Homo sapiens: one gene and its partners. The protein of the gene in region 3 interacts with the protein of the main gene of each other region in a biochemical or structural test. Each region holds a gene or a part of one and is shown on either strand. Other genes may lie near its edges. The genes, in order: PDZRN3, TAMALIN, CAPN6, CARD11, SYNJ2BP, MPP2 and PALS2.

Evidence for each region.
Region 1: the proteins of CAPN6 (region 3) and PDZRN3 interact in a test that uses a peptide from one of them, tested with the Homo sapiens proteins (one large-scale study listed by IntAct).
Region 2: the proteins of CAPN6 (region 3) and TAMALIN interact in a test that uses a peptide from one of them, tested with the Homo sapiens proteins (one large-scale study listed by IntAct).
Region 4: the proteins of CAPN6 (region 3) and CARD11 interact in a test that uses a peptide from one of them, tested with the Homo sapiens proteins (one large-scale study listed by IntAct).
Region 5: the proteins of CAPN6 (region 3) and SYNJ2BP interact in a test that uses a peptide from one of them, tested with the Homo sapiens proteins (one large-scale study listed by IntAct).
Region 6: the proteins of CAPN6 (region 3) and MPP2 interact in a test that uses a peptide from one of them, tested with the Homo sapiens proteins (one large-scale study listed by IntAct).
Region 7: the proteins of CAPN6 (region 3) and PALS2 interact in a test that uses a peptide from one of them, tested with the Homo sapiens proteins (one large-scale study listed by IntAct).

What each region holds. Positions count from the first base shown.
Region 1 is NC_000003.12:73,600,539-73,604,799, reverse strand, and holds part of PDZRN3 (E3 ubiquitin-protein ligase PDZRN3), read left to right. Parts: intron 1-2,338; coding exon 2,339-2,446; intron 2,447-4,261. UniProt on the Homo sapiens protein: E3 ubiquitin-protein ligase. Plays an important role in regulating the surface level of MUSK on myotubes. Mediates the ubiquitination of MUSK, promoting its endocytosis and lysosomal degradation. Might contribute to terminal myogenic differentiation.
Region 2 is NC_000012.12:52,009,185-52,013,167, forward strand, and holds part of TAMALIN (protein TAMALIN), read left to right. Parts: intron 1-5; coding exon 6-55; intron 56-1,307; exon of another isoform or gene 1,308-1,378; intron 1,379-1,696; coding exon 1,697-1,751; intron 1,752-1,854; coding exon 1,855-1,957; exon of another isoform or gene 1,958-1,998; coding exon of another isoform or gene 1,999-2,023; intron 2,024-3,983. UniProt on the Homo sapiens protein: Plays a role in intracellular trafficking and contributes to the macromolecular organization of group 1 metabotropic glutamate receptors (mGluRs) at synapses.
Region 3 is NC_000023.11:111,256,438-111,260,698, reverse strand, and holds part of CAPN6 (calpain-6), read left to right. Parts: intron 1-4,261. UniProt on the Homo sapiens protein: Microtubule-stabilizing protein that may be involved in the regulation of microtubule dynamics and cytoskeletal organization. May act as a regulator of RAC1 activity through interaction with ARHGEF2 to control lamellipodial formation and cell mobility.
Region 4 is NC_000007.14:2,907,444-2,911,704, forward strand, and holds part of CARD11 (caspase recruitment domain-containing protein 11), read right to left. Parts: intron 2,723-4,261; coding exon 2,607-2,722; intron 1-2,606. UniProt on the Homo sapiens protein: Adapter protein that plays a key role in adaptive immune response by transducing the activation of NF-kappa-B downstream of T-cell receptor (TCR) and B-cell receptor (BCR) engagement.
Region 5 is NC_000014.9:70,389,150-70,393,410, reverse strand, and holds part of SYNJ2BP (synaptojanin-2-binding protein), read left to right. Parts: intron 1-4,261. UniProt on the Homo sapiens protein: Regulates endocytosis of activin type 2 receptor kinases through the Ral/RALBP1-dependent pathway and may be involved in suppression of activin-induced signal transduction.
Region 6 is NC_000017.11:43,879,976-43,884,236, reverse strand, and holds part of MPP2 (MAGUK p55 subfamily member 2), read left to right. Parts: intron 1-81; coding exon of another isoform or gene 82-153; intron 154-881; coding exon 882-1,034; intron 1,035-1,184; coding exon 1,185-1,334; intron 1,335-1,725; coding exon 1,726-1,953; intron 1,954-2,647; coding exon 2,648-2,779; intron 2,780-2,887; coding exon 2,888-2,993; intron 2,994-3,078; coding exon 3,079-3,147; intron 3,148-3,352; coding exon of another isoform or gene 3,353-3,384; coding exon 3,385-3,546; intron 3,547-4,252; coding exon 4,253-4,261. UniProt on the Homo sapiens protein: Postsynaptic MAGUK scaffold protein that links CADM1 cell adhesion molecules to core components of the postsynaptic density. In CA1 pyramidal neurons, required for synaptic KCNN2-containing channel function and long-term potentiation expression.
Region 7 is NC_000007.14:24,579,612-24,583,872, forward strand, and holds part of PALS2 (protein PALS2), read left to right. Parts: intron 1-4,261.

The DNA of each region.
Region 1 (4,261 bases), on a different chromosome or scaffold from region 3:
GCAATGTGGTATTTTGCAAAACAAACGAAAGCCAAAATCCTATCCCCTATCTCCCTCTTTCTCTCCAGCCAAGAAATGCAAAGTGGTTAAATCAGAGTAAACACAGATCTCTTTTCATTTGATATATTGACATCACCTCTTAGGGAACTCAAGCTTGTTCATAAATCTTTTGTGGTCCATTGAGACTCTTCAAGTTCATCTAGTGGAATATTCCATAGCCTGAAATGTTGGACTTCTGAATTCCTGTGTGTTTTGAGTTTTCTCAGTGGGAGACAATATTGCACACAGAGCATGTAATGTGCAAGAGGATCCGCTTCGCCTCAGTTTGAAACTGAGCCATACCACTTTTTAGCTGTGTGACCTTGGATGAGTTTCCGAACCTCTCTCAGTCTCAGGTTTTTCACCTGTGGAATGGGTAATAATAGTACTTACCACTTGTGGTTATTGTGAGGATTAAACAGTGCACATAGAGCACTCACTATGTACCTGGTACCTAGTTTGTGCTCAGTAAAGGAAGCTGCTTTGCAGCTTTATACATATATTTCAGGTGTGCATGTAGGGAGCTACACGGATGTGTTCAGACTAGTGCCTCAGTAAGGCTGCCGTGAGAGAGGAAGGAGGCACAGAGGTATTCAGATGGTAAAGGGTTAGTGTGCAGGAGGTCTGTGCAGAGCACTGTGATGCTAGGCAGGGATGCCTTTTGAGGATAGATGATCCTACACAGCACCCACAGGCTCCCTGACCCTTCTCTTGGAAGAGCGTTGATGGAATCCAGATGCCAGTTAGAGACATATCTTTGTCATGTGGGGATAAATGTCAGGAAAAACACTTAATGCTCATTTTAGGTTGTGATTTTGGTTTCTTTTGGTGAATCATATAACATTTTACTCTGTGTGTGTGTGTGTGTGTGTGTATGTGTGTGTGTGTGTTTGGGGAAGTGTGAAGAAGGAAGGAGAGAAGGACTGAGAAATGTACATTTTTCCAAGCTTAGTTATTGCTGTTGCATTTGAAGGGGTAGACTGAATCACACTTGAAGTCGTTTCCTTCCCCCTTTAGAATATAGGGATTGTTTTTTGGTTTTGTTTTTTGCTGTTTAAAGTGGAAAATGTTTTATTTGAAGAGTTATTTTTAACAAATGGAATTTTTATGTATTTGTATTCAGAGTAATTGTTATTGAAATAAATCTTCTAATGACATACGGCAAGGAATTTACCATGACTAGATTTTGGAGTTTTTGTGGAACATTCTGAGCTTACATTTCAAATGATTTTGTTTGGAAATATCACATGCTTGTGCCATTTAATTTATAAATCCATCTGTTAATCACTAGAAATTTAATCCGTACACTTGGAGAGAATTCATTGCAGTGCTGTTTGAAAAGAAGTTCGTGAACAAGCTGTGAGGGTTTTTTATGAGCTTGTTGGAGCCTTTTGATTTTAAGGAAAGGAAGGAGTTTGAACAGTGAGCTGTCTTCGTTCCCAGAAAGTTTTAGTTCTGACATTTAATTCAAAGATCTAAAGAGATTCAAGGAGGTCAGAGATCAGAATTTATTAGGACTAGAGTGATGGTAGTGCATCGGAACAAAAACAAAATATCTGTTTTCACAGTCAAATTATTAGATATTTACAAGTTTAATAACATTCTGTGCAAATGAGGATGTGGGAAAACACTCTGTCTAATGAACAATAAGTATAAACTCTCTGAAAAGCCATTTGGCAATATCTTTGAAATGTACATATCCTTTTACCCAACAGTTCCATTGTTAGGGATTTGCCCTAGAACTATAATAGCAAAGATAATTTAAAATACAAGTAGGAGAGTATTATCACAGCATTGTTTAATCACAGCAAATGAAAACAGTGTTTATTAGCCTCATGTTGGATACTGTTCAGTCACTTTAAGAAGTAAGGCAGACACGAATTGGTAGCAGAAGATCTTCATGATTTTTAGAGTTAAATGAGAGAGGCAAGGACATAAGAGTCAGACTAGCATAATCACATTTGTATGCAAAAAGGAACAAATGCATATTTAGGAATATGATGTGTTAAAATGTTTTCAAAAGGATGCATAAAGTCAAATAGCTACCATAGGCGGGGGAAGAAGGACAATGGGTTGGAGATGGCAGGGATGCATCATTTTATGTCCTTTGGTGTGGTTTGAAATATTTTACTGTGTGTGTATTTTAGTTTAAAACAGAAATTAGGAGAAACAAATACCTTTTACCCTATTGCCACTCTTGACACAGCAAGAGTCAATTACTGTTTTAAGAGTGCAAGCTTTACTTTCATGCTCAACTTAATGCCTAGCATTCATGCATGTTTTTTTTTTTAACCCAAAGGATAACCACGATGGATCATCCAGTGAAGGAATCTTTGTATCCAAGATAGTTGACAGTGGGCCTGCAGCCAAGGAAGGAGGCCTGCAAATTCATGACAGGATTATTGAGGTATGTGAATACTGGCCAGTGTCTTTGAATAGGCTGAATGCCATCCCATCTTCGTCTAGCTCAAAGCAAGATGTTTGACTGGGGAGGGAGGCCTAAAGTGGTAGATGGTTGAGCGGGAGTCTCACTTTTCCCATTGTGTGGGACCAGATTGAGTGTTGATTGCCTTGGTGTTAAATTTTTGTTAAATGTAGAAAAGCCAGATTATGAGTGGAATGTTCACAATTTGGCTTTTTTCATGTGGACCTCAATCTGTTTCGTATGCATCAGTTACAGTTTCGCGCGAAAACCGTTGAAGAGTTGGATGTTAGAACCAGATGAACGAACCCTGTTGTACAAATTGTGCACCCTGTTCATATTGATTACCAGGGTACAATTGTGTCAGCTTTGGAGTCATTCTAATGTCCTCAGAGCTCACACAGCACACACTTATTTCTACAAATGCATTGTTCTCTCTGTTAGTTTGTCGTCTTTGCCTGTTGTTAGTTGTACAACCTGATTGCCCAGGGATTTGCAGGCAGAGGTTGATATTAGGGTTCACATATCATCACTTACTCCATTTTCAGTTCGTCATTCATCATTTCAAACTTTTATACAGCAGGTTTGTAGACTCATGTAGGGGAAGTGGATCTCTCAGCCCCACCAGACAACACTTTGTAACAGGGTTGCAGTGTTCTAGGATGCTCTGAGTCACTAAAAGGGAGAGAATGATTTGTTGCCTTCTCATATGGGCTCTTGTTGCAAAGTTTGATATAAATGAGTAATTTTTTACTGGTGTTTTGACCATTTTCATAGCTCTTTGGATGGATACACATATGGGCTAAATTGATTGGCTTTCCTATTAGGCAAAAAGTAAATTTGAGAATCCACGATGATATGCCAGACCCCACAAGAAATTCACCCATGGGCCACAGCCGTAATATAGTGCAAATAGAAGAAACCAGAAAAACAGCACCGATACCAGTGGGTGTTTGTTTTCCACATGCATTTTTATCATGTCTGTATTTCCTGAGTATTTTCATGGCCTATTTCAAAATTTAGGACTGAGTGGGAGCTAGGACCACGAGCTAAGCCATAAGTGAAGTTCACATCACTCACTGGAATGTGGCCACAGGCTTCTCCTGGGGAAAGGAGCCTCAGCAAGACAGAGAACAAAGTCTTGCATTTCCAGTCTCATCTGGACACATTCTGCAACGTGCAGTATGCTTCAGGATAATTTGTAATCCTCAGGAAAATACACAGTTAAATCTCACAGGGAAAGCAAACTGAACTAGTTAGGGTGTAAGGCTCCCTCCTCGGAGGGAGTGTGATGTGCTAACTTACATGCTAAAATGATACTTGATTTTGTTTTAAGGACATTATTAATATTGTTGCATCCCCTTTGAATGTTTGAAGGGTTCTTAAACTTGGAGCTTTTTTTGCTGCATGGTTTAGAGTCAGTCTTTGTACTTCCCAGGTCAGGAGACTGGATTTTCCCTAACAGGAATTTGCTTGGGCAAGAGTGCTTTCTTAAGAGCTCAAATGCGTTACTTACTGTCTTTTTTGAGAGTGAATACATTTTCTGAGACTATTGTTCAAAAAGATAAGTACAGCTTCCGTTGCCAAGGGTTTGGTGGAACAGCCAGTTTCTCTAAGTAATGGAATTTCATTGCTCTTGTGTTTTGCAAATGAGAAATCTACAGCTGGGCAGGATTTTCTCTTGGCAAAGGATGATCTGTATTTGAAATGTTGAGTACGGTTTCTGGTAAGTCACATTCCTATTTTGGACAGTATGTAAAATATTAATCATGTAGTGTTGAGATGGAAAGAAGGATGACC
Region 2 (3,983 bases), on a different chromosome or scaffold from region 3:
CCCAGGGCTCAGGATTCCGCTGGAAGAATCTCAGCCAGAGTCCTGAACAGCAGCGGTGAGTCACCAACACCCAGCCCCTGCCATGGTCCAAAGGGGTGAGGTGCTGGGTTGGGGGGTGCCAGGACAGCATCTCAGCCTAGCGAGGGTAGTCATTCTCCTAGCCTTTAAACATGGCTCCCCCGCTGGGAGTGAGGGCAGGTGGGGGTGAGGGCTGTGTGAAGGGGGTGGCAGAGAAAGGAGGTAGGGACTTTTGAGTCATTAGGTGCTCTTCAACACACCCCCAGTCCCTGCCAGTTACCCCTCCCTGGGGAGATCTGGATGAACGGATGTGGGAGTTGGGAGGGGGTGTAGGCAAAGTCTATGGGGAACGTCCTAACCCAGGCCTCCTGGGCTCCCCTGAGCCCTCCTAGCCTTGGCAAACCCCACGGGCCCAGACCTTAGCCAGGCTGTGTCCAGCTGCTTGGGGCTGGCTGCCCCTGCCTCCAGAATGTCAGTCCTCTTCTGGTCCCAGCCTGTGGCAGCCCTCTTAGGAGGGATCTGAGCGTGGGCAGAAGTAGGTGCTGACTCCAGGCCCTGGGACCCCACAGTTTCCCTTCTCTACTCATGTCCCATCCCTGATTTGGGCTTGACTTTCTCTAAAATGGATCAGCAAACTGACCTGCTAGCCAGATTGGCCTGTTTGGCCCTTGAGCTAATAATTTTTAAAGAGTTGTAAAAATAAAAACAAATAACAATATATGACAGAGATCATAAGGGGCCTGCAAAGAAAGCCTAAAGTATTTACCATTTGGCCCTTTGCAGAAAAAGTTTGCTGACCCTTCCAAAAAACCCTAGAACATTGGGGTAGACGCGGAACTCCCAGCCACCCTGCTCCCTGCCCCAATAGTACAGAGAGGGGAAAGGCCTGCTGTTCAGAGTGAGAGGGGCTCGAGCTGGAGTGGGGAGGTGCTGCTCAGCATTTGGGGGAATCTCTGGGTCAGGCTGGAAGCGGAGAAGCCTGGTCTCCAGGGCCTTTCCGAGGCTGAGCTACTTGAAGGGGCCTTTGGAGGCTGCTTTAACTGTGCCTCTGGCTGGGCGGGAAGGAAGGGGGTGGGAGTGGGCAGAGGAAACTCTGGGCTCCCCCAGCAGGCGAGGATCTGGAGCAGCTCCAGACCATTGTGTCCAGCGGGCAGGCCTTCAGTGCGGGAAGGGGCGGCCTCGAGGCTCCCCTCCCCCAGCCCCCACATCTGGTGGGCTGGCCCCAGCATAGCTGGGAGGAGCAGCTGTGGTCTTGCTGAGCCTCGTGACTGGCCTCTGGGGGTGGGGCCAGTCCTCTCTCCAAAGCTGTGGAACAGAGGAGGCTCCAGGCTGTGGCTGAATTTCGGGCCTTAGCTAGTCAGTAAGTGGTACTGTAGGGCTCACTGGAAAGCTGGGATGGGGCTAAAAAACTCAGCCGGCTCATCCTTCAGGGGACCGGCCCTTCTCTGTGCTTCCCTCCCACCACTAGAGGCTGGATTGGTTCTCTGTGGCTCCATGAGGCTGATTTCAATTGGGTATGGGAAAGACATTCCAATAATCTGTGATGAGACTGAGCTGTCACTGGAGACAGAGTCCTGCTGGAATGTTCTAGACCAGTTGCCAATATCCAGGGAGGCCCAAGCTATGGGACTTCTACACCTTTTAATCCTAATTGTCTTGACCCCTGTGTCTCTTGCAGGAAAGTGCTGACGTTGGAGAAGGAGGATAACCAGACCTTCGGCTTTGAGATCCAGGTGGGAGAAGCTGCACACAGGGGTCAGGGGGGTTGGATGACCAGCCTGAGGGATGAACGGACTTGTCCCAACCCTGGGCTGAGGGTCCCCTTGTCCATTACAGACTTATGGCCTTCACCACCGGGAGGAGCAGCGTGTGGAAATGGTGACCTTTGTCTGCCGAGTTCATGAGTCTAGCCCTGCCCAGCTGGCTGGGCTCACACCAGGTGGGGCCTGAGCCCAGGACACCCAGGTCTGGGAAGGGGATATGACCTTACTCCCAAGCAAAGGGGGTGAGCAATCTCTCCTGAAATCAATTCCTCTTCCTTTTCCTTCTTTGAGAAGGCCAGAAAGAAGAATGGATAGAATCTGGGCTTTGGATCTAGGCAAATTTGCCATGTACTGTGTGATCTTGCACAGCCCCATCTACAAAATGAGGGTAATAATGCATCCAAACATCACAGTGCGGCAAGGGGATTCCCTGGGCACACTGCCAGGGCCTAATTAATGGTGGATGATGCTGCTGCTGCTCTGATTCCTCCCAGCAACCCTGGCAGTCAGCATGGGCAGGAGCCAGGGAAGAAGCAACATTCCATTAAGTCTGTTTGATATTGGGGATCAGGCCAATCCTGCCCCAAAATGGGCCCAGTGCTGAGGAACCGATGTTACTCCCTTTTAAAAAATTAGAAACTTTTTTTTTTTTTAAGAGACAGGGCCTCAGTCTGTCACCCAGGCTAGAGTGCAGTGGCGTAATCATAACTCACTATAACCTTGAACTCCTGGGCTCAAGCGATCCTCCTCTTGCCTCTGCCTCCCAAAGCAATATGTTACTTCCTCTAACAAGGAAATTATGCTTCAGCAGGAGATCCCTGGATTGAGCAGATCTAGAGTCCCCAGGTTCCAGGAAGGGCAGCCTGAAACTGTATGAATCAATCCCCCCTCCACCATCTTTGCCCCTAAGCCCCTACCTCCTTCCCACTTACCAGCAGCCCGTGCTAGCTATCTTAGTCCATTTTCTGTTACCATAACAGAATACCTGATACTGGGTAATTATAAAGAAAAGAGGTTTATTTAGCTCATGGTTCTGGAGGCTGGGAAGTTCAAGACTGGGTGGCCGCATCAGGTGAGGGCCTCATGCTGCGTTCTGACATGATGGATGGCATCTCATGGCAGGAACGCCTGCAAGAGTGGTGAGTAGGCACACGCAAAAGAGACAAAACATGGGTGATCTTGCTTTATAGCAACCCACTCGCCAGGTAACTAAACCAGTCCTACCAGAGCAAGAACTCACTCCCCAAAAACAGCATGGATCCCTTCACTGGGCAGATCCTTCATGGCCCAAATGCCACTTTTTTTGAGATGGAGTTTCGCTCTTGTTGCCCAGGCTGGAGTGCAATGGCATGATCTCAGCTCACTGCAGCCTCTGCCTCCCAGATTCAAGCAATTCTCCTGCCTCAGCCTCCCGAGTAGCTGGGATTACAGGCACTGGCCACCAAGCCCAGCTCATTTTTGTATTTTTAGTAGAGATGGGGTTTTGCCTTGTTGGCCAGGCTGGTCTCGAACTCCTGACCTCAGGTGATCCACCCGCCTCGGCCTCCCAAAGTGCTGGGATTACAGGTGTGAGCCACGGCGCTCGGCCCCAAATGCCTCTTAAAGGTCCTACCATCTCTCAGCACTGTTACGTTGGGGATGAAGCCTCAACATGAGTTTTGGGGACAAACAATATTTAAATGGTAGCAGTAGCCAAGTGGTATACTACAACTTCTCAAAGTAGTTTCAAATCCACTCTCCCTCCCCATCATCCCTGAAGCATCCACAGCAGGGATCCATACCCCTTTTTACAGATAGGAATGGGGCCCTGACATGGGGCACACTGTGCTTGAGGTCAGGAAGCTCTCCAGTGGTGCAGGGTAGCAGAACTATCCCTCTGGGGGCCAGTCATTCCCTGTGCTTCTCTCCCACCACCAGAGGCTGGACTGATTATCTGTGGATCCATGAGGCCATGCCATGCCTGGGGCCAGGGTCGGTTCCCAGCTGGGTGCTGCTCACCTGCTCTTCCCTGAATTGACTGGGTCTTATGGCCAGCGTGGACTGGACAGAAATAACCAAATCTGAGGGTAGCCCAGGGTCCTGGGTGGGCTTAGCTTTGGGACAGAACTTCTTTTTTTTTTTTTTTTTTTTGAGACGGAGTCTCGCTCTGTCGCCCAGGCTGGAGTGCAGTGGCGCGATCTCGGCTCACTGCAAGCTCCGCCT
Region 3 (4,261 bases):
AAGCTGTGGATTCCTTCCCAGCCAGAGTGGAGGCCAAGCCTGTGGTCAAGAACCACGTCAAAGTTCTCTGGCCTCCCATCAGGAAAGCTGAGAGACAGAGCTGGGCCTCTCTGAATTGGCTCAGGAAGGCCAGATGAGCCGTTGGCCTCCCCCACCTCATTGGCAAGGTTGAGATCCTGGTTTGCAGCGAAACTTACAGACATCTTGTCCCTTGGCATGCCATGTAGCTGCACACTTAACTGGGGCTATTTTCTGAAGTCTCCAAAATGGAAGCAACACGATTAACCTGATATTTTCTGTCTTTTTCCTTTCTCGTGTTGAAGGCTTTTGCCTTCGTAAGCCTCCATGCCTGCAAACACCACTGATAGTTTAACAAACTGACTCCAGTCAAGCTCCGCCCCTCGCCGCCTTGGCGCCCCCCCGGCCCCCCGCCGCCCCATTCTTGGGCAGGATTGAGTTCCCCTCCTCCCACTTGCCACTTCTTTGCTGTGTTTTAAGGAGCCTCTTCAGATGACAGGAATTATGAATGTCTTGCAATTGTTCAATGCCAGATCATCTGCCCATACCCTCCAGAGGAAAGTTCTTCTTAATTTCTCCAGCCGTCTATTGGCCTCAGCTGTTGTCCTAGCTTTCTGAATACACAGGTATATTACCTGAGACCATGTGCTCCTGGACTTTTCTATTCTCCTGGAGCTCAACATATATAGTCTTCATAAATTATAAGGTCTAACTTATACTGAGTTACAGTGTGATCATAAGACTGCCGGTAGGATTTTTAGGCTGAAATCTGCCTGCCAAATTCCCACAGAAAATCTCTTCTCCAGCTCCCTCCAGCCACTCTCCCCTCCTACCCACCTCTGGCGTTTTTCCTTACTGACTCATATCTACCTACAATAGTGTCTTAAAATCAGACACATCTAATCCCTGACTAAAAAGGAGTAAAGCCTCATGGGAATTTGCACTGTCAGCTGTGAGGAAAAAAGGGCACCTGCACAAGATCTGTCAGCTCTCCTGTCAAGTTTTAAGTTCAGCCTTCGCTACCATTGCCATTGCCTAGTCTTCCCCTCTAGAATACATTCCCCTGGGGCCATTTTACTACATTGTCTGGTTGAGAGTGGGAGGGTGATGAGGCTCTGGATTAAAATTATGGTAGTAGGAATGGAAGGGAAAGGCAGATAAGGGAAGACATTAGAAGCAGAATATACAGGCTTGGGTGACAGCATATGAGGGAACCGTAAGGAAAGAAACACTTTTCTCTCTGTGCTAATAGAAATTTCCAACCACCAGCTGAATGCAACACCTAGGTATAGTAGTTTTGGCCTAGTCTGCTCAAGAATTTCCTTTTCTTCCCAGAGACTATATCACCCCATGTGAGTAGTCCTAAGTGTTTTCCACTGTTTACACAATTGAAGAGAGTTGAATAGGCCCATAGTCTTTTCTCCAACTGTCCTATTTATTTTAAATTATGCATTAACAAACTTTAACAGCTTTATCGAAGTGCAATTTATATATTGTGAAACTCACCTGTTTTAAGTATACAAAGCAATGATTTTTAGTAAATTTAAAGTTGTGCAAACATTACCACAACCCAGTTGTAGAAGAGCTGCATCACTTCAATAAGATCCCTTGTGCACATTTGAAGGGAGTAATCCCTCCACCCTACCCCCACCCCTGCTGCAGCCAACCACTAATGTACTTTTGGTTTCTATCCAGAACTGCCTATTCTGTACATTTCACTTAAAATGGAATCATAAAAGTAACTGGCTTCTTTTTCTTAGCATAATGTTCTCAAGAGTCATCCATGTTGTAGCATGTATCAATTTATTCCATCTTATTGCTGAACAGTATTCCGTTGCATAGATATATAAATTCTTCCCAAAAAAGCAGTTCGGGATCTGTGCCTTGAGTCTCCTAGCAGAATCCTGAAGGTTAAAGTGAGAAAATGATTACACAGTGATTTGGTGGCCCAGTTTGGAAGTGGAGGTTGGGCCTAAGATCCTATTCTATTCTCCATATTGAGCTTTCCTTGGATGGGTTAGGAAGGAAGAGACTATTTTATTGATAATAAAATCTTCATGCAGAATTGAAACTCCCCAGTAGGAAAAGTGGACTTCTTGAGAGGCTGGTGCAACATTAGTCCCTGAGCCTAAGTCCACCTATAAATGCTCCATCTGGGGGATGGTTCAATTTTCTAAGTAAGATAACGACTACTTGGACTAGCTCACAAAACCCTCAGTTCCTGAATAGCAGTTCTGTGCAAATTAGCCCCTGAGCTTTCTGGGACTATTTAGACCCTGGACTTATTCATAATATACCTACTGCAGGCCTGACCTCACTTGTAGGTGTCCACACCCCTACCCCCTCACTACTGCTAGATTGCACGTAGCACTTTTGAAAGTGTTTCCACTATTCTGGCTGCTGGTTTTCTGGGCAGCTTTTCATTTTACTGAGGTTCCTGCGGTTTACCCTGGACCTCCATGTTTATTGTCAGTAAATTTCACCTGTGTAAAAAAAATGCTGAATTTGGATGTGGTAGGTGCAAAGGGAGTCACATAGAGTGCCTTGTGCAGGGCTACAGGACTTGTAACTGTATGCCCCCTCCCGCTCAGAGGTCTCTGGGAAGGAGGATGAAGTAAGGACAATGAGAAGTCCCTTAAGACTAAGCTAAGAGAACACACTTCCTAGAGAAGCTGCTTTGCTTAATGGAAGGTTTTGGCTCAGAAGTGGGGTCATGCGGGGACCATTTCAGCTTTACTCTTGGTACTCAACTTCCTAGTTGTGTGTTTCTTCCTAAGAAATCATTTTGCCGTGACAAAATGATCACTTCAACTGTGCCAGCACAGCTGGGAGCCATTAGGGGCTCAGCATCCCTCCTTGCTCCTAAGCCACCCAAATGTTGTGAATATGTGTGCTGTGACCTCTCCTCCAACCCCATTCCTACCACTCCAGCACAGCTCAAGCTGAAATGTCCCATCTGCACTCTGCATCTCAGCTTTGAGTTACAGAAAAATTTCTCGTCTTACATCCTTAACCCCAACAGGAAGATATCCAGTGTGTCCAAAATTAGGGGAGAAGTCAACAAACAGTCATTTTGTTGTTTTCAAATTTGTCACCAAATAGTCTGTTTGGCTGCTAGGTTTGCATTGGCTTATTACCCTTTACCCTTTCTAAATCCTTGGCTACTTTCTAGTCTTTTAATGCCTCACTTCCTTAAAGAGGCAGAAGATAGGGCTTAATAAAGGATTTATTTCCCGTATTTCATATCACGATGCTTACATATAGTAAGAGATTGATTCATATTTATTGAATTTAATTGAGCAGACTAACGCCTATTAGTGATATTCATCCTGGAACCAAAAGCTAAGAGGTAAGTAAATTTCCCAAAAGAGTGAAGAGTGTTTAGGTAGGTTTTAAGCAGAGGCATAAAACACTGGGATGAATGACTGAAAGAGGTAGTAGCATCTCTGTCCCTGAGGAGTTGCACAATATCATCCTTTATGTGGTGGCCATTGTTGAGCCTAAAGGCACAGGGATGGATGACTGAGGTCTTCAGCTTCTTTCTCTAGCCATATGTGGTTCTGAAAAATAAAAAACTTTAGGCCTAGGTCTCCTGCTGACTAGCTAGATGATCAGAGTAGCAAGTTATTGCCCCTCTCTGAGCTTGCTTCCTCATGTGAAAAATAGGCTTTACTAGATAGTCTCCAAAATTCATTCCAGTTTTGACATTCTATGACTGTTAACTTGTCATGTTTTAAATCTATTGTTAAATAGCCATCACGTATGAAAAGGGGTAAAGTATAACTGGAGAATGGGCCAGTTTATAAGAGGAAATGGAATGTTGTGGGGGGGGGGGTCCCAAATTTACATTCTCTCATGAATTTCACACAGCTTTTAATATATATATTATATGTACATACATGTATATACATAGACACATATAATATATAATAATCATATCCATCTTGGGTCAAGAAGAGAATAATTACCCCATTCCTCAATTTGAATTGTTTATATGTCTTTTTGCTCACTTATGTGACCCTTTATGTCTTCAATAGAAGTTGACATGCCAAAAGTGTTGGCTAAGCCTAGATACCTACTGTGAAATGAAAATTTTATGGAAATTCAAGACACCATAATGTATCTCCAACCACTAATAACTCTACATAAAATTAGCAAATAATTTGCCTTATTAATCTAAAAGCACACTTTTTCATATATCAGTGTTCACTTTATTGTTTTTCCATGTTAGGAAACTATGATA
Region 4 (4,261 bases), on a different chromosome or scaffold from region 3:
GCTGTGCAACCAATCTCCAGAACTTTCTCAACTTCCCAAACTGCAACTCTGGGCCCATTAAATACTCACTCCCCATCTTCCCTCCGGCAGCCCCTGAGAACCACCCTTCTACTTGCTGTCTCTAGGAATCTGACTGCTCTAGAGACCTCACAGAAGCGGAATCACATACAGCATGTGTGTTTTTGTAACTGGCTTATTTAACTGAGAATGACACCCTCAAGGTTCATCCATGTTGGAGTGGGTGTGAGAATCTCCTTCCTTTTCAAGGCTGAATAATACTCCACTCTATGGGCCGGGTGCGGTGGCTCAGGCCTGTAATCCCAGCACTCTGGGAGGCCGAGGCAGGAGGATCACTTGAAGTCAGGAGTTCGAGACCAGCTGGCCAACATGGTGAAACCCAATCTCTAGTAAAAATACACAAATTAGCCAGGCATGGTGGTGGGCACCTGTAATCCCAGCTACTCGGGAGGCTGAGGTAGGAGAATCTCTTGAACCTGGGAGGTGGAGGCTGCAGTGAGCCGAGATCGTGCCACTGCACTTCAGCCTGGGTGACAGAGTGAGACTCCGTCTCAAAAAAAAAAAAATACTCCATACAGTATTTTTGTTGTGATACACACTGCACCATAAACACATTCCCAGGCAGGACAGATCAGGGAAGGGGGTATGTACCATGCTAGTATTTCTCATGCATTAAATGTATTATTGTTTCTTTGTTTCAACTCTTTTTTTGTTAACAGTTTGCAAGGTTTTCAGCTCTTGCCACCTTCCTAGCCTGTATGGATGGGCCCTATTGTGTGTATTCACTCCCCACAGACCGACCCTTAGGTGACGTCTACGTTTTGGCTATTGGGAGTAACGCTGCTGTGAACACGGGCGTGTATATGTCTCTTACAGACCCTGCTCTCAATTCTCTTGGGGATATGCCCGCAGGTGGGGTTGCTGGATTATATAGTATTCTATTTTTAATTTTTGGGGGCATCGCCATGCTGTCCTCCACAGTGGCCGCTCTCTTTTGCATTTCCAGCAGCTGTGCACCGGGTTCCGACGTCTACCCTCCTCGTCAACACTTGTCAGTTTCTGTCCTTTTGGTCCTGGCCAGCCTAACGGGTGTGAGGTATCGAGGGGGATGCCCGTCTCTTTTGCTCACTGCTGCGTTCCCCAGAGCCTAACCCTTCACAATGGCTCAGTGAGTATCTGGTGAAAAGGAATGAATGGGCCTAAACTCTCAGTCTGTGATTCCCTCTGCAAAATGGTGGCAGGACATTTATTTTGCAGGTGCGTGCGAGGAGGGGCGGGGATCCGAGATGAAGCCACTTAAGGGCCAGTCTGTCCTCATCACCCAGGCCCCAAACCTCAGCGCCGTCCTTTCGTTTTTTTTTTTTTGTTTTTTTTTTTCTGAGATGGAGTCTCACTCTGTCGCCCAGGCTGGAGTGCAGTGGCTCGATCTCAGCTCACTGCAACCTGCCCCTCCCACGTTCAAGCGATTCTCCTGCTTCTGCCTCCTGAGTAGCTGGGACTACAGGTGCCCGCCACCACGCCCAGCTAATTTTTTTTGTATTTTTAGTAGAGATGGGGTTTCACCATGTTGGCCAAGCTGGTCTCAAACTACCAACTTCAGCTGATGTGCCCACCTTGGCCTCCCAAAGTGTGGGGATTATAGGCGTGAGCCACCGCGCCCAGCCTCTGGTTCTCTGGAACCCCAGAGTGAACCCTTTCCCGAATCCTGCAGGCTCGACCCTGAACACGGATTCGGAGTCAGACTGCCTCTCATCGCCTCTCAGACAGAAGCCCGGCCCACACCGCCACCCTGCCCGTGTCCAGAGGTGAGAGGTGCGTTTATACCCTAAAGTGGACCATGCCACCTTCAGTGGCCTCCAGATGCACCCAGAACAAGATGTCGCAGCCTCCCGTGGCCCTGCATGGCCTGGACCCGCTGCCCCTCACCCCTCAGCCTCTCACTCTCCGTCCCTCACCCTCCGCCCCTCACTCCTCAGCCTCTCACCCCTCTGTCCCTCACCCTCTGCCCCTCACTCCCCAGCCTCTCACCCCTCCGCCCCTCACCCCTGCGCCCCTCACCCCTCCACCCCTCACCCTCTGCCTCTCACCCCTGCGCCCCTCACCCCTCAGCCTCTCACTCTCCGTCCCTCACCCTCCGCCCCTCACTCCTCAGCCTCTCACCCCTCTGTCCCTCACCACTCCGCCCCTCACCCCTCCGTCCCTCACCATTCCGCCCAAACATCTGTCTCAGGGTCTGAGCACCAGCTGTTCCCCTGCTGCCCAGATTGCGTCTTCTTTCTCATCTCCTAGGCCCCCCTCACTGCCATGGGTCTCGCTGATGGATACCCCAGGCCTTCCCGGACCACCCTGGGTGATGGGCACTCCGCCCCGTCCCTCCCAGCTCTTGTCCCCTGGGATGCGCCCCATATGTGAGTCACCATCTCGGCCGCTGTCCTTGGCATCAGCTCTGCAAGGTCAGTCCCGTACTTGGTGAGGGTTTACAAAAGGGGTGCATGAGGTGGGGGCACACAGGCCTCCTGCGATCCATGGAGGCTTGGTGGGGTGCTAGGGACAGGAGGGGACAGCCCTTAGGGGTCTGGGAGCCCTACCTGAACCTCTTGATGTTCTTCTCACACACCCGGATGAAGAGCACGATGGGGTAGATGTTGGACTTGATCAAGTCTCTTGTGCAGCCGATCCCAGCCTCCAGCAGGCAGTGCTTGTTCTGCGGGCACAGCGGCTTTGGTCAGCAGCAGCCCACCCACCTCCCGCTCCTGTGAAGGTGCCTGCAGCGGGGCCTGGATGCAGGGTTGGGGTCTATAGCGGGGCGGGAGCCCTGAAAGCCACCTGCCGCTGATCCAGGAGATGAGACCCCCACATGAGTCTGGACACTCCAGGACTCTGCTGACCACAGTGATGTTCATGGGCAGAGATGAGGCCCCGGACGGGGTGAACCAGGTGGCGTGAATGAGTTTGAATGAAACACCTGCTACCAGCCGGGCGTGGTGGCTCACGCCTGTAATCCCAGCACTTTGGGAGGCCCAGGCGGGCCGATCACTTGGGGTCAGGAGTTCGAGACCAGCCTGGCCAACACGGCAAAACCCTGTCTCTACTAAAAGTATAAAAATTAGCTGGGTGCGGTGGCCCACGCCTGTAATCCCAGCTACTCGGGAGGCTGAGGCAGGAGAATCACTTGAACCCGGGAGGTGGAGGTTGCGGTGAGCCGAGATGGTGCCACTGCATTCCAGCCTGGGTGACAGAGTGAGACACTGTCTCAAACACACACACACACACATACACACACACGCACACACACACACACCCCAAAACACCTGCTACCCTAGCCAGCCTTCAAGTAAGAGGGTAGGGAACACATGAAGGGTGAGGCGGCGAGGCTGGCAGGTCCCAGGAGTATCTGCAAGGTTCTCAACCATGAGCTCATCATTTTGAGAAAGGGCAATTTCTGCTTTGCTGAAGGCATCACTTAAAAAAAAATTCCACCAAATGTTGGCATGGTGGCTCATGCCAGCAATCCCAGCACTTTGGGAGGTGGGAGGATTGCTTGACGCTAGGAGTTCGAGACCAGCCTGGGCAATATAACAAGACCCTATCTCTAAAAAAATTAGAAAATCATTAGCTGGGCATGGTGGTGAGTAACTGTAGTCCCAGCTACTCGGGAGGCAGAGGCGGGAGAGTTGCTTCAGCCTAGAAGTCGCGGCTGCAGTAAGCCGGGATCATGCCCTGCACTCCAGGCTGGGCAACAGAGCGAGCCCCAGTCTCTAAATAAATAAAACATCAAACTTTGCATTGGAATAGAACATAAACACAGCATTCTAAGCATGCAGCTCAGTGAATTTCACAAACTGAACGCAGTCTAGCACTCGTGTCTGGAGGTGGGAATGACCCCCCTCGCCCAGGGTCTCCTTGGGCCTCCTGCGGGGCCACTGCTCCCCATTCCCCACCAATAGGACCATGGCCCACATTTCTACAGCACAGATCTGCTGGAAGGCTTCTTCTTTTCAGCTAAAAACAATCTCAGCTCCAACCCTGTCTGCTCACTTTCTATCCACGCCAGCTATCAGAATTTCCTAAACTGCTGTGGCCCAGACTTAAAAAAAACAAAAACACCACCATCTGCTCTTGCCATCCCCAAGGTCAGCGTCCACCACGGAGCCAGCCCCCGGCAGCTGGGGGAGCCCTCCAGTGACGCGGACAGAGAGCCTTTTCTTCATCCAGTGCTGGGACGAGGAAGAGCTCAACGCTT
Region 5 (4,261 bases), on a different chromosome or scaffold from region 3:
AGATCCTTGAGGAATCTCCACACTGTCTTCCATAATGGTTGAACTAATTTACACTCCCACCAACAGTGTAAAAGCATCCCCATTTCTCCACATCCTCGCCAGCATCTGTTGTTTCCAGACTTTTTAATGATCGCCATTCCAATTGGCATGAGATGGCATCTCTTTTGATTTGCATTTCTCTAATGAGCAGTGATGATGAGCTTTTCTTTATATGTTGTTGGCCGTATAAATGTCTTCTTTTGAGAAGTGTCTGTTCATATCCTTTGCCCACTTTTTGATGGGGTTGTTTGTTTTTTCCTTGTAAATTTGTTTAAGTTCCTTGTAGATTCTGGATATTAGCCCTTTGTCAGATGGATAGATTGCAAAAATTTTCTCCCATTTTGTAGGTTACCTGTCCACTCTGATGATAGTTTCTTTTGCTGAGCAAAAGCTCTTTAATTGATCCCATTTGTCAATTTTGGCTTTTGTGGCAATTGCTTTTGGGATATGTGGTCACCCTACTTATGCAAGATTTTTCTGGGCCATAGCCAATGATTAGCAAGATACGTATTGAATAGCCTTTCCCTTTCTGGTGGTTTCCAACTGACATCTGTTTCAATTGGTTGGTCCATATGCTGGATGATTGCCGCAGAGTTTAGATATCACACTTGCTAGAAACTACTCTTAAGGGGGATTTCTAGGTCACATGCCATAGACGTACTTAATAAGTTTGAGTTCCTGTTTATAGATGGGTGGAATTTTAAAATCTGTCTTCCCATTTTTTAGGAGATTTTGCATTTCTACTGTATATTTATTCATTCTTTCTCTGTCAAACTATCTAGTTTGGAGCTTTAGCAGCCATTAGTTTATTGACAACTACTCCTAGCGCCTTATCCCAATAGAGCAACTACTATGTAGTTTATGAAGATTTTTTTTCGTATTTTATGTTATTGGCCCCTAACACTTACCCATTGATGTAGACAGGGCAGAATTTATAATTCTTATTTTTGTAGAAAAGGAAGCTGAGGATCAGAGGTAAACTGACTTGCTTCAGTCCACATATCTGGTAAGTTATAAACTTAGAACCAAGTCTTCTGACTTTGATTTGCTTCTACAATATCTAAAAGGGACAGGGAAAAGGATAAATTTGGGTTTGTGGTTAAAATAGGAACTGTCCAGGTTAGCTTTATATCTTCCTCAGAGCATAACGTAATGCCTAACACATAGTAAATGTTGATTTGCTTCTGCAATATCTTAAAGGGACAGGAAAAAGGAAAAACTCCAGTTTGTGATCAAAGCAGGGAGTGTGCAGTTTAACTTTATGTCTTCCTCAGATGATAACACAACATCTTACACATAAGATTCAATCAGTAATTTTTACTGAGCAAGTGAACTGGGGATTATGTAGGTATCCGTACAGCCCAGGTTCAGTTGGTCATGCCACTACTTAATGCTGTGGTGACTCTTTTATTGCAGCAATGCTTTGGCTTATAGATACACCCAGTTCTGTAAATATTCTGGCTGAACAAAGGGCTTCAGGTCAGTCCAGGAGTTCTCATGTTAAATAGTTTGGTTCATTTACAACAGAAGTAGCAACGGGTTATAAATGTACCTATATAATATGACTTCGATGGGGTGTGTAGTAGACGGCTCTTTTTTGTTTATGGTAAATCTCGGTAAAATTTCTTCTACTCTTCCTTTTTTTTCTACAGTTAGCTTTGAATAACCAGTAGCAAAGTCCTTTCTGTTGCTAACTACTACATTGCATTCAGCTGCTTAACATTTGCTTCCTGTTCCCAAGATCACCAGAGGCAACTGTAGCATTTGATGAGGGTGTTGGATTTCATCAAAAGATTTTTCTACATAGTTTGTTCCAGCTTGGGAGAGGTGGGTTGGCCTTGGCCCCCTTGTTCAAAGCTGTCACAGTTTTGAAGTCATTTCAAAACCTTCGATAATCTTGTTCCATCTGCTTTTCCACCTTATCTTACATTTCTGTACCTTCTCCAATACTTCCTACCTTCTATGATACAAATTGAGGGTGCTCTAAGAAAATCATTTAGTAAGTTAAGCTACTATTTTTAATACCCAGCCCTTCAAGGAAGTTAAAATAGCATCTTCCAGAAGTAGCACCTTCTTATTTATTTTTTTAGAGAATAGGGTCTTGCTATGTTGCCCAGCCAGGTCACAAACTCCAGAAGTAGCACTTTCTATTATGTATATTATTTTAGAGAATAAATTCTTTCTATTATCTAGCTGCAGAGATTTTATGCACAAGGTATGCTTTTTATGTATTTTATTTTATTTTTGAGATGGGGGTCTCACTCTGTCACCCTGGCTGGAGTGCAGTGACACAATCTTGGCTCACTGCAACCTCTGCCTCCCAGGGTCAAATGATCCTCCTACCTCAGCCTCCCAATGTTGGTCATGTGCCACCACGCGTGTCTAATTTTTTGTATTTTTGGTAGAGACGGGGTTTCACCACGTTGCCCAGGCTGGTCTCGAACTCCTGAGCTCAAGTGATCCACCCACCTTGGCCTCCCAAAGTGCTGGGATTATAGGCGTGAGCCACCATGCCTGGCTAAGGTATGCTTTTTAACTTAAATGTTTCCTGTTGTGTCTTTGTTTGGTCATGTTTTTCTTTAAATTACAAATTGATTTGCTAGTGCTTATGTTAATACTGTGAGCTTCAGGTGTAAGCTTTTCTCCCACCAATGGGGAGAACTTTCAGAAAGCCCGCATATGTCTCTTTTTTATTTTTTTTTTTGAGATGGAGTCTTGCTCTGTCGCCCAGGCTGGAGTGCAGTGATGCAATCTCAGCTCACTGCAAACTCCACCTCCCGGGTTCACGCCATTCTCCTGCCTCAGCCTCCCGAGTAGCTGGGACTACAGGTGCCTGCCACCATGCCCAGGTGATTTTTTGTATTTTTAGTAGAGACAGGGTTTCACTGTGTTAGCCAAGATGGTCTCGATCTCCTGACCTTGTGATCCACCTGCCTTGGCCTCCCAAAGTGCTGGGATTACAGTCGTGAGCCACCGCGCCCGGCCCCCCGCATATGTCTCTTTAAGTATCTTTTCTATTGAGAACAGTGTAGGCTGGTGATTATGGTTATTCCTTCCAATTGCACCGCTAGATTTTTGGTTTGTTTCCAAACTATCTCCTTTGTCTTACACTGTGCCCCTGAATTCTACCAGTAGCTGACATTAAGAAAGCCCTAGAGAAGTTCCTTTTTCCTTTTTATTTTTTTATGCATAGGTAAAATCCTTTCCTAACAACGGTTTCTGTACAGTAAAATCCTTTCCAGCACTTAGTCATTGGTCCATAGAAATAGCACTTTGGTACTCAGTTTTCTTTCCTTCTCTTTTTTCTTTCTTTTAATATTTTGTTTTACTGTGGTAGGAACACTTAACGTGAGATCTACTCCGAACAGATTTTTCAGTGTATGATATAGTATTATCTGTAGGCACAATGTTGTACAGCAGATCTCTAGAACTTAATTCATCTTGCATAACTAAAATTATATGCATTTAAAATAGTTAAACTCATAAAAACAAATATTAGAATGGTGGTTTCCAAGGACTTAGGGAAGAGGAACTGGGGAGTTGCTAATCAACGAGTAGTCAGTTTTTTCTACAGTGAATAAAAGTTGTCAATTACTATGCCCAAGTATAGATTGAGTAGCCCAAATCCAAAAATCTGAAATTTGAAATGCTTCCAACTCCAAAATTTTTTAAGGGCCAACATGACGTTCAAAGGAAATGCTCATTGAAGCATTGCAGATTTCAGATTTTTGGATTAGGGATATTCAACTGGTAAGTTTAATTCAAATATTCCAAAATCCCCCAAATTCAAAATTCAAAACACATTTGGTCCTAAGCATTTTGGATAAGGGATACTCAACCTATATATGGTTGTACTTGAAGTAGCGAAGGAAGGGAGAGTAAATTTGGTGATTTAGTCCTACCATGAAATAGCAGTTACCTTTCTGGTTCTGAGGTTTCTCTGCCAATACCTACACCACTGCCTCCACCACCAAAATGGAAAAAAAAAAAAAAAAAAAGAAACTCTCAAGAGATTTTTCTAAAGCACTATCATACATAAATTCTCCAGAAGCTTGGGAGAAGGAAAGTGTGGAAGGGAAGGTATGGTTAGAAATCTCTCACACTAAATTAGGAACAGTTCATTTGATAATTGGTAAAAATGCATAGCTTCTTTTGATGAACACAGCTAACCCTGCTGTAGTAATATCAGGAATGTCAGGAATTGGGTCCTTTGAATACCATC
Region 6 (4,261 bases), on a different chromosome or scaffold from region 3:
TACTTTTGGGACAAGAGTGAACATTTGAATGTGGACTGTCTTACATAATGTATTAATGAATCGATGTTAAATTTCTTGCAGGTGATAATGGTATTGTGGTTTATGCAGCAGAATGTCTTTGTTCCTATGAAATACATGCTGAAATACTTTGGGGTAAAGTGGCTTGTGTTGTCTGCAATGATCTTTCAAAGATTCAGAGGGGAAAAATGGTCTTCATATATATTATTGAAATGGAATTCTTTTCTTCCTGACCCATCTAACCTAACACTCCCCACTGGGCTGGTCACTGGCGAAGGATTCCTTTTCTGTTTTCAGCGCTCCTTGGTATGGAGCCCGGAGCCAGCAGAGCAACAAATAGGTGCAGGGCCTGCTCCTGGCACCGTGTTCTGATTTCCTGTCCCCTCATTCGCTGGGAACACTGAGTTGAGGGCCTGGAGACGCAAGTTCAAGTCCCATTGACCCTGGGAAAGTTATTCTACCTCCCTAATTTCCTCATCCTGGGCTTCAGGGTCTTCAAGGCCCCACCCAACCATGATGTCTGGTGGAAGAAGCCATCTTTGAACGCCAATGCATATAGGGTCCTGGGAGCTGGGGACAATTTGGTAACTTCTAATGACCCTCTGTGGCAAGGGGATGGAAAGGAAGGTTTGTCCTTTGGTTTCTTCCTTCCCTAAACTAGGTCCTAGTAATTTTGGGGAAGAAAGGAGACAGCAAGGAATGCATGTGCACGTGTGGGTATGATTGTCAGTGAGTGAGGAGCTGAAGCTGGGGGCTGGGGGGTGGGATGGGGAAAATGCCTGGGGGCTGAGGGAGGACCCTGCTTGGTGTCCCAGGGCTCCTGGGGAAGCTCCTAGCCCCACCTGTTCTGCTTCCACCCCCAGGCCCATGAGAGGCTGGAGGAGACGAAGCTGGAGGCCGTGAGAGACAACAACCTGGAGCTGGTGCAGGAGATCCTGCGGGACCTGGCGCAGCTGGCTGAGCAGAGCAGCACAGCCGCCGAGCTGGCCCACATCCTCCAGGAGCCCCACTTCCAGGTTCCTGGCTGCTAGGGCTGGGGTGAGGGAGCAGGAGGTGGGTGGACTGGGGCATGCTGCTGTTGGATGGGCCAGCAGGAAGTTGGATCTGGGATGGGAAGAGACCCGGGACACTGCCCCATTGTCCCTTCTCTTCCCACCACCCCCCAGTCCCTCCTGGAGACGCACGACTCTGTGGCCTCAAAGACCTATGAGACACCACCCCCCAGCCCTGGCCTGGACCCTACATTCAGCAACCAGCCTGTACCTCCCGATGCTGTGCGCATGGTGGGCATCCGCAAGACAGCCGGAGAACATCTGGTGAGGACTGGGCAGGGCCAGAGGTGGTGCTGGTGAGGGTGGGGGGATTGAGAATAACCAATGAACGGACAAAAAAGGCCAAGTGTGGTCTGAAGATGAAGATGGGGCCAGCTTTGTGCAGGGAAGGATTGATGCAGCAAAGGGTCGGGGGAAGACCCAGGAGACCATAGACACTGCACACACACCTGTGTCCGCACCTCTCCAGTCTGCCCACCTCTCCCCTCATTAGTACCTGCTGTAAGTGAAGAATTTAGGCAGAAGGATGGAGGAGGACTTTGTGAGGGTGGGGGTGGGTGGGTAGGGACAGGAATGGAGGAGCTATTAGGAGACTATTTGAAGATTCTGACTTGGAGCAATTGGGGCCTCATCTTACACTCCCTCTGACCTCCAGGGTGTAACGTTCCGCGTGGAGGGCGGCGAGCTGGTGATCGCGCGCATTCTGCATGGGGGCATGGTGGCTCAACAAGGCCTGCTGCATGTGGGTGACATCATCAAGGAGGTGAACGGGCAGCCAGTGGGCAGTGACCCCCGCGCACTGCAGGAGCTCCTGCGCAATGCCAGTGGCAGTGTCATCCTCAAGATCCTGCCCAGCTACCAGGAGCCCCATCTGCCCCGCCAGGTGGGCCCCTCACCCAGCACAAGGCCCAAGGGATGGCTGAGCCTCCTGGCTGTCAAGGTTGCAGGTCTCACGGAGGCCCTCCTCTCCTACTGGTTTCCTCCAGGGAAGATGGGGGTGGGACCTGCAGCCCAGGGGCAGCTGACCGCAGCCGCCGACAGGCCTCTGCCGCTGCTGCACCTGCACATGCTCCCACATTGGCTGGTATTATGCACGCAGCCACAGCCTGGGGTACAAGTGTATGAGAGAGCGCCTGCATTATGGTCAGCGTTCTTCACGTTTGTGCGCGTGCGCAGGGTGGGGTTGTCATATGTCCTGGATAGCTGTCTCCTGGTTGGTCAATTCTGGGGGTGTGGCTGCTCTGTCTCCCTATCCTATTGGGTCTCTCGCCCTCCACCAGAGCCCTTCTCCAAGGGGAGAGGGTGAGTGGAGGGAGGGATCCAGGATTAGGTGCCAGGGTCCTGTGCCCTACTTGGTGGTCCCGCATCCTTGGTCCTGAGATCTGAATCCTGTAGTACTAGATGCAAAGGGAGGTTGGCACCAGGGAGGAGCATGGGCAGGCCTGGAGGCATCACTCCTGCAGGGGGACAGTTCCATTGCCCCTTAGTCTCTGTGAAAAGAGGGGGCATGGGGTAGACCTCCACCTGCAGCCTTCTGCTGACCCTTCCCCCGACCCTTTGCTGATTCCTGGGCCCAGGTATTTGTGAAATGTCACTTTGACTATGACCCGGCCCGAGACAGCCTCATCCCCTGCAAGGAAGCAGGCCTGCGCTTCAACGCCGGGGACTTGCTCCAGATCGTAAACCAGGATGATGCCAACTGGTGGCAGGTGAGCTGCGGGCACCCCCGCATCTCTCCAGGTATGGTGCATGGGAGGGCGAGGGCACAGGGAGGGGTCCTCTTGCTCAGGCAGATCTTGGTCTCATGTCCGTTTTAGGCATGCCATGTCGAAGGGGGCAGTGCTGGGCTCATTCCCAGCCAGCTGCTGGAGGAGAAGCGGAAAGCATTTGTCAAGAGGGACCTGGAGCTGACACCAAACTCAGGTAGGAGGTCCCCCCTACCCCACACCTCCAATCTGGGATCCAACAGGGCCCTGTCTGCCTCACTCACCCATCTCCCTATGGCCAGGGACCCTATGCGGCAGCCTTTCAGGAAAGAAAAAGAAGCGAATGATGTATTTGACCACCAAGAATGCAGGTGGGTATCAGAGCGCCCCCTCCCTTACCCTCCTCTAACATGGCATGCCTTTCCCTGTCCCCACCCATCACCTGTGACGACGTGTGCCTGGCTCAGATGCTGCCAGCCGTGTCCCTAGGCCCTGCCCGACTCCCCCCTGCTCCCCTGTTCCAAGCCCTCTTGCCCTCAGCCTCCCTGAGAGCTCCGCCCCTCCCTCACCGTGCAGCCTGGTGAGCAGCGCCATCTCCCTGTGTCCAGAGTTTGACCGTCATGAGCTGCTCATTTATGAGGAGGTGGCCCGCATGCCCCCGTTCCGCCGGAAAACCCTGGTACTGATTGGGGCTCAGGGCGTGGGACGGCGCAGCCTGAAGAACAAGCTCATCATGTGGGATCCAGATCGCTATGGCACCACGGTGCCCTGTGAGTGGGAGCTGGGCCCTGCTGAGTTGGGGACAAGGAGCAGGGCTCCCCTGGGGCCAGGGCTGGGCCCACCGAATGGGCATCTTCATGGGCACCAGGCCAGGTGGTACCTTTGGGTACACGGGTTGGGGTGCACGCCCTCTGTGGGTGGTTAGGGGAACTTCAGGCTCAGGAAGGGTGAGGGAGGTGTCCAGCCAACAGGTGGCCTAGCGGGCTGGGCTGGCGTCCACTTTCCTTCTCTTGTTTCACTTGCTAAAAGCCATGAAGAAAGTGAGTGCCCAGCTGTGCACCCGGGTGAAACAGGCTACGAGCTGCATGTGTGTAGCCTTGTGGAAGACAGGGCTTCTTAGTGGCAGAAACAGCGGGGGTGGTGGAAGCTCCTGGCTGCCAGAGGCAGGACTAAGAGCACTGCCCTGGTCTGCTTGGCTCTTGCTGTGTGGCTTTGGGCTGTACATTGCCCTTTCTGGACCTCAGCCTCTCTTCTGTGGGCTCTGGGCTGGACCATGATTACCAGCTCATGTCTCTGTGTGTGCCAATGGGGAGAGTGGGGGGCAGGTGTGTGCAAAGGCAGCAGTGCTGGCAAGATGGGGAGCAGACTGCACCTCCAAGGCTGGGAAACGGGGGCCTGGGTAGGGGTGCATATATGTGTCTGAGGCACTGTAACCTGCCCCTGCCCATTTGGTCCAACCTACCCCCATCCCCCTAGACACCTCCC
Region 7 (4,261 bases), on a different chromosome or scaffold from region 3:
CCGAGATTTTCCGATACTTTGTATCCTTCACACAGCCCAGCACTTTGTTACCTACTTAGTAGCACTAAGTAAAGATTTAATTGAAGGAGCTTAGCTTATCACCTTTTTATAGACCCAGTTCATAATTCTTATGTTTTTGGAAGAAATCTTTTATAAAAAGTGATTTTCAATTTCATTTGATAAATCTACTTAGAATATTTATTAGAATAGGCAATAGAGCAATTTTTTATAAATCTTGGTTTATTGTATAGCATATTAATGGAACTTTTTCATAGTTGCTTTGTTCTGTAGGATATTATTAGATATTAGTTGGGTAGGATTAATATTTTTAAAAGATAGAATAGGGCAGCTGGAGATATGTGGGACTTTTAAAGAAAAATGTATGAGAAAGTGTGGGGAAAATGATTCTCTGAGCAGACTGGGGGCCATATGCTTAGGAAAGGAAAAGTGAAAGGTGAGGGATTCGTTTAGAGAAATTCTGTGGTGGAACTCAGAGGGGTACATGTTGGGAGAAGTTTTAACTTAGGAAAATACTAAGCTGATTTACTTAAATGCATATTTCAAGGATAAATACTTTATATTTTGTTCTGTAGGTCATTTTTACCATGAAGTGACTCTGGCAGGGATTCTTTACCTAAGTGGGCATCAGAATCCTTTGGAGCTATCCTACGCTAAAGGATTCTAATTTAGTAGGTCTGGTATGGGGCAGGAGCATGTTTATATTGTTAAAATCCCCAGGAGCCACCATTTGAGTGTAAAATAATACATCCTGTGGAATATTCCATTTTAATAATGAAATCATTCAACAAAGCTTTTGAGGTTGTATATAATTTAGGTAACTCTAATGCTGGAACTTGGTCTCTCACCAGGTCAATACTTCTGCACATACCTCATTGATCCCCATTGCTTTACTCTCTTGCATACTCTTCCCTCCTCTGCCTTCTTGTTTCTTTTCTACTAATGAATATTCAGGCATGGTTCTCCAAGGAAGCCATCATTAGGTGGCCTCATCCATAATTTATCTTTTCAGTACAGAACAAATTATAACACAGTGCTTATACAACTGGCAAGTACACTCATCACATGAGTAGATGATTTATGTGTTTTCGTTCACATGAGCCTTGAACAAATATACCCAGTTTTACTAGTTGAGCTTCCTTGTTTTTTCTTCTTGCTATCAAGAGGTTGGCGTTTAGTCATAGTTAATGCTGATGTAAACATTTGATAATATTATAGATACCACCATGTTTCAAGGTCTATGTTAAATGCTCTCCACACATTATCTCATCTGCTTGTTGCAGATTTTAAAATTATGTTTTTTAAGTCACTAAAATCTTTTTATGATTGTATTAGTTTTCTGTGACTGCTGTGACAAATTGCCACAGACTTAGTGGCTTATAAATAAATGTATTCTCTTACGATTCTGAAGGCCAGACATTTGAAATCAGTATAATTGGGCCAAAATCAAGGTGTCAACAGGGACATTTTTCCTCCAAAGAATCTAAGGGAGAACTTACTTGTTGCCTTTTCCAGTTTCTGGTGGCTTCTGGCATTCCTTGGCTTGCGGCTACACACTGCAGTCTTCAAGGCTGGCATTTGAAATCTTTCAGCTCTGTGTCTTTCATTTCCCCACGTGTGTGTGTGTGTGTGTGTGTGTGTGTGTGTGTGTGTGTGTGTGTCAGAGAGAAAGGGAAATCTCCCTCTGTGAAGGACACTTGTGAAGGCATTTAGTGCTCTCTGGAATAACCTCCCCATCACAAGATCTTTAATCACACCTGTGAAACTTTCCAAATGCGGTGACATTCATAGGTGTCAGGAATTAAGACATAGATATCTTGTGGAGGGGGAGACTATTATTCAGCCTACCATAATGGTAATTTAAATAGTTCAGAAAAGGGAGGAGGAGTTGATAAGTCTTTTTGTCCCATCTTCATCACTTTCTAAGTCAGTATTTCTCAATCAGGGATGATTTTGCTGAACAATCTCCAGGAATATTTGGCTGTCACAACTGGGAAGGTGTTGCTACTACTATGTATAAGGTATAGGTCAGGGATGCTGCAAACAGTGCACAGGGCAGCCCCCCTCAACAAGGAGTCATCCAGCCCAAAATGTCAGTAGTGATGAAGCCGAGAAACGTTATTCTAAAGGCAACTATTGCCAATAGCTTTTTTGGGGTATCCAGAAAAAATTTTGATGCCTCTATTACGAGTAAAAGCCTTTAATCTGATTTGATCAGAACGGGTGGTAGTTTTGGCTGACTGAAAGTGATTTAAGTGAAGAGTCATAAACGATTGACACATATCTTAAATAATATATTACTTAAAAATCTACATTCATGTGTCAGTCTTTTCTTTAAGTATGTGTCTTTTGCCAGGAACTCTGGGTCATCATTCTTATATAAGCCAATGCATTATCACTGATTACCAGCTTTGGAGTGAGAACTTAAAAGTTTGTGAAGCAGTCTGCATATAAGATCTAGATTTCTAATGTTTTATGACTCCTCAATTGTTTATACTTGTTTTACCCTTAATTTTACAGCAGTTTATCATTTTGTTTTGTTGTTTTGTCACTTGCTTTTTTGGGGTCTTCCCAAAGCATCAACTGATTTTCATATAAAGAATATAACTCCCATCATCTTGTATCAAATACAGCATATGATGCATATAAAGAAAATGAAATCCTATTTTGTAATAATGGCTTGCTAAGGAATTGGGAATACTAATTCTAGTCGCAGCTCATTTGAACAGCATCCAATCTGGTGATATGGTGAGGGCTAATGTCAGTTGTTTACAAATTCTTGAATGTTTCAGAACATTTTGTTTTAGTTCTGTAATGGCAGAGTTTATAAATAATCTATAGAATATTACTATAAATACTTTATTGGTATTACCAGCTTAGTGCTTGCGTTACTTTTCTAAAAGAAACATTGATTTTTTTTTCATTAACTGTAATAAATATTATTTGAAGTTTGAATGTGGCTATCTTTGAGTGGATTTGTCTTCTTTTTATTTACTAGAATATGTATGTCTATATGCACATAATAAAATGTTATATGGAAAACCTAACTTTAGTTACATAAATAAAAAATTATTTGCTTTTTTTATTCCTCTTTTAATATCCTTCTATCTTCTATCCTTGTATAAGGAGCTAGAAGGTATAAGAAACTCCAATAATTGGGTTTCTTATAAAGAGCTTTGATATAAGAAACTCAGATAATTGAGTAAAGAAGTTTAATTTATTAAAGTTGCTTATTTTTGAAATGATAGTCATGCTTTTTTTTTTTTTTTTTTTTTTTTTTGAGACAGAGTCTTGCTCTGTCACCCAGGCTGCTAGAGTGCAGTGGCGTGATCTCGGCTCACTGCAACCTCTGCCTCCCGGATTCAAGTGATTCTCCTGCCTCAGCTTCCTGAGTGGCTGGGATTACAGATGTGTGCCACCACGCCCAGCTAATTTTTGTATTTTTAGTAGAGAGGGTTTCACCATGTTGGCCAGGATGGTCCTGAACTCCTGACCTCGTGATCTGCCTGCCTTGGCCTCCCAAAGTGCTGGGATTACAAGCGTGAGCCACCGTGCCTGGAAATCATTCATATTTTTATACAAATCAATTTAAATGTTTTTTATTTTTTAGCTAGTAATCTTTTGGAATGGAGGTCAGTAAAAAAAAATGTAAGCCCTATTTTTAAAAGGTTGGACTATCTTGTGAGACAAAGTAGTCTCAGTTTGCCATCACCAACCAATCCTTAGCATTAAGCTCTTGAAAACAACTAGGTAGAGAAATTTTCCGTGAAGGAATTTAATGATCTTTATAAAGTTTTACTATTCACCCAATTAAAATGTTAGATTATCATTTTATGCTATTCAATTTGGAAATACCAGATACTATACAATTAGTTTCCATTCACCATTACTTTCTTGAAAGAAACTTTTCACGACTTTCAATAAGGTCCCCTGCCCCCAAATAAAGTGGTTATAAATCCTAGGAGGCATTTTTGAGGATATCTTATTCAGATCCTTTCTTTTTTTTTTTTTCCCATGCTAAATATTTATTTAATTTTTTTTTTTATTATACTTTAAGTTTTAGGGTACATGTGCACATTGTGCAGGTTAGTTACATATGTATACATGTGCCATGCTGGTGTGCTGCACCCACTAACTTGTCATCTAGCATTAGGTATATCTCCCAATGCTATCCCTCCCCTCTCCCCCGACCCCACCACAGTCCCCAGAGTGTGATATTCCCCTTCCTGTGTCCATGTGATCT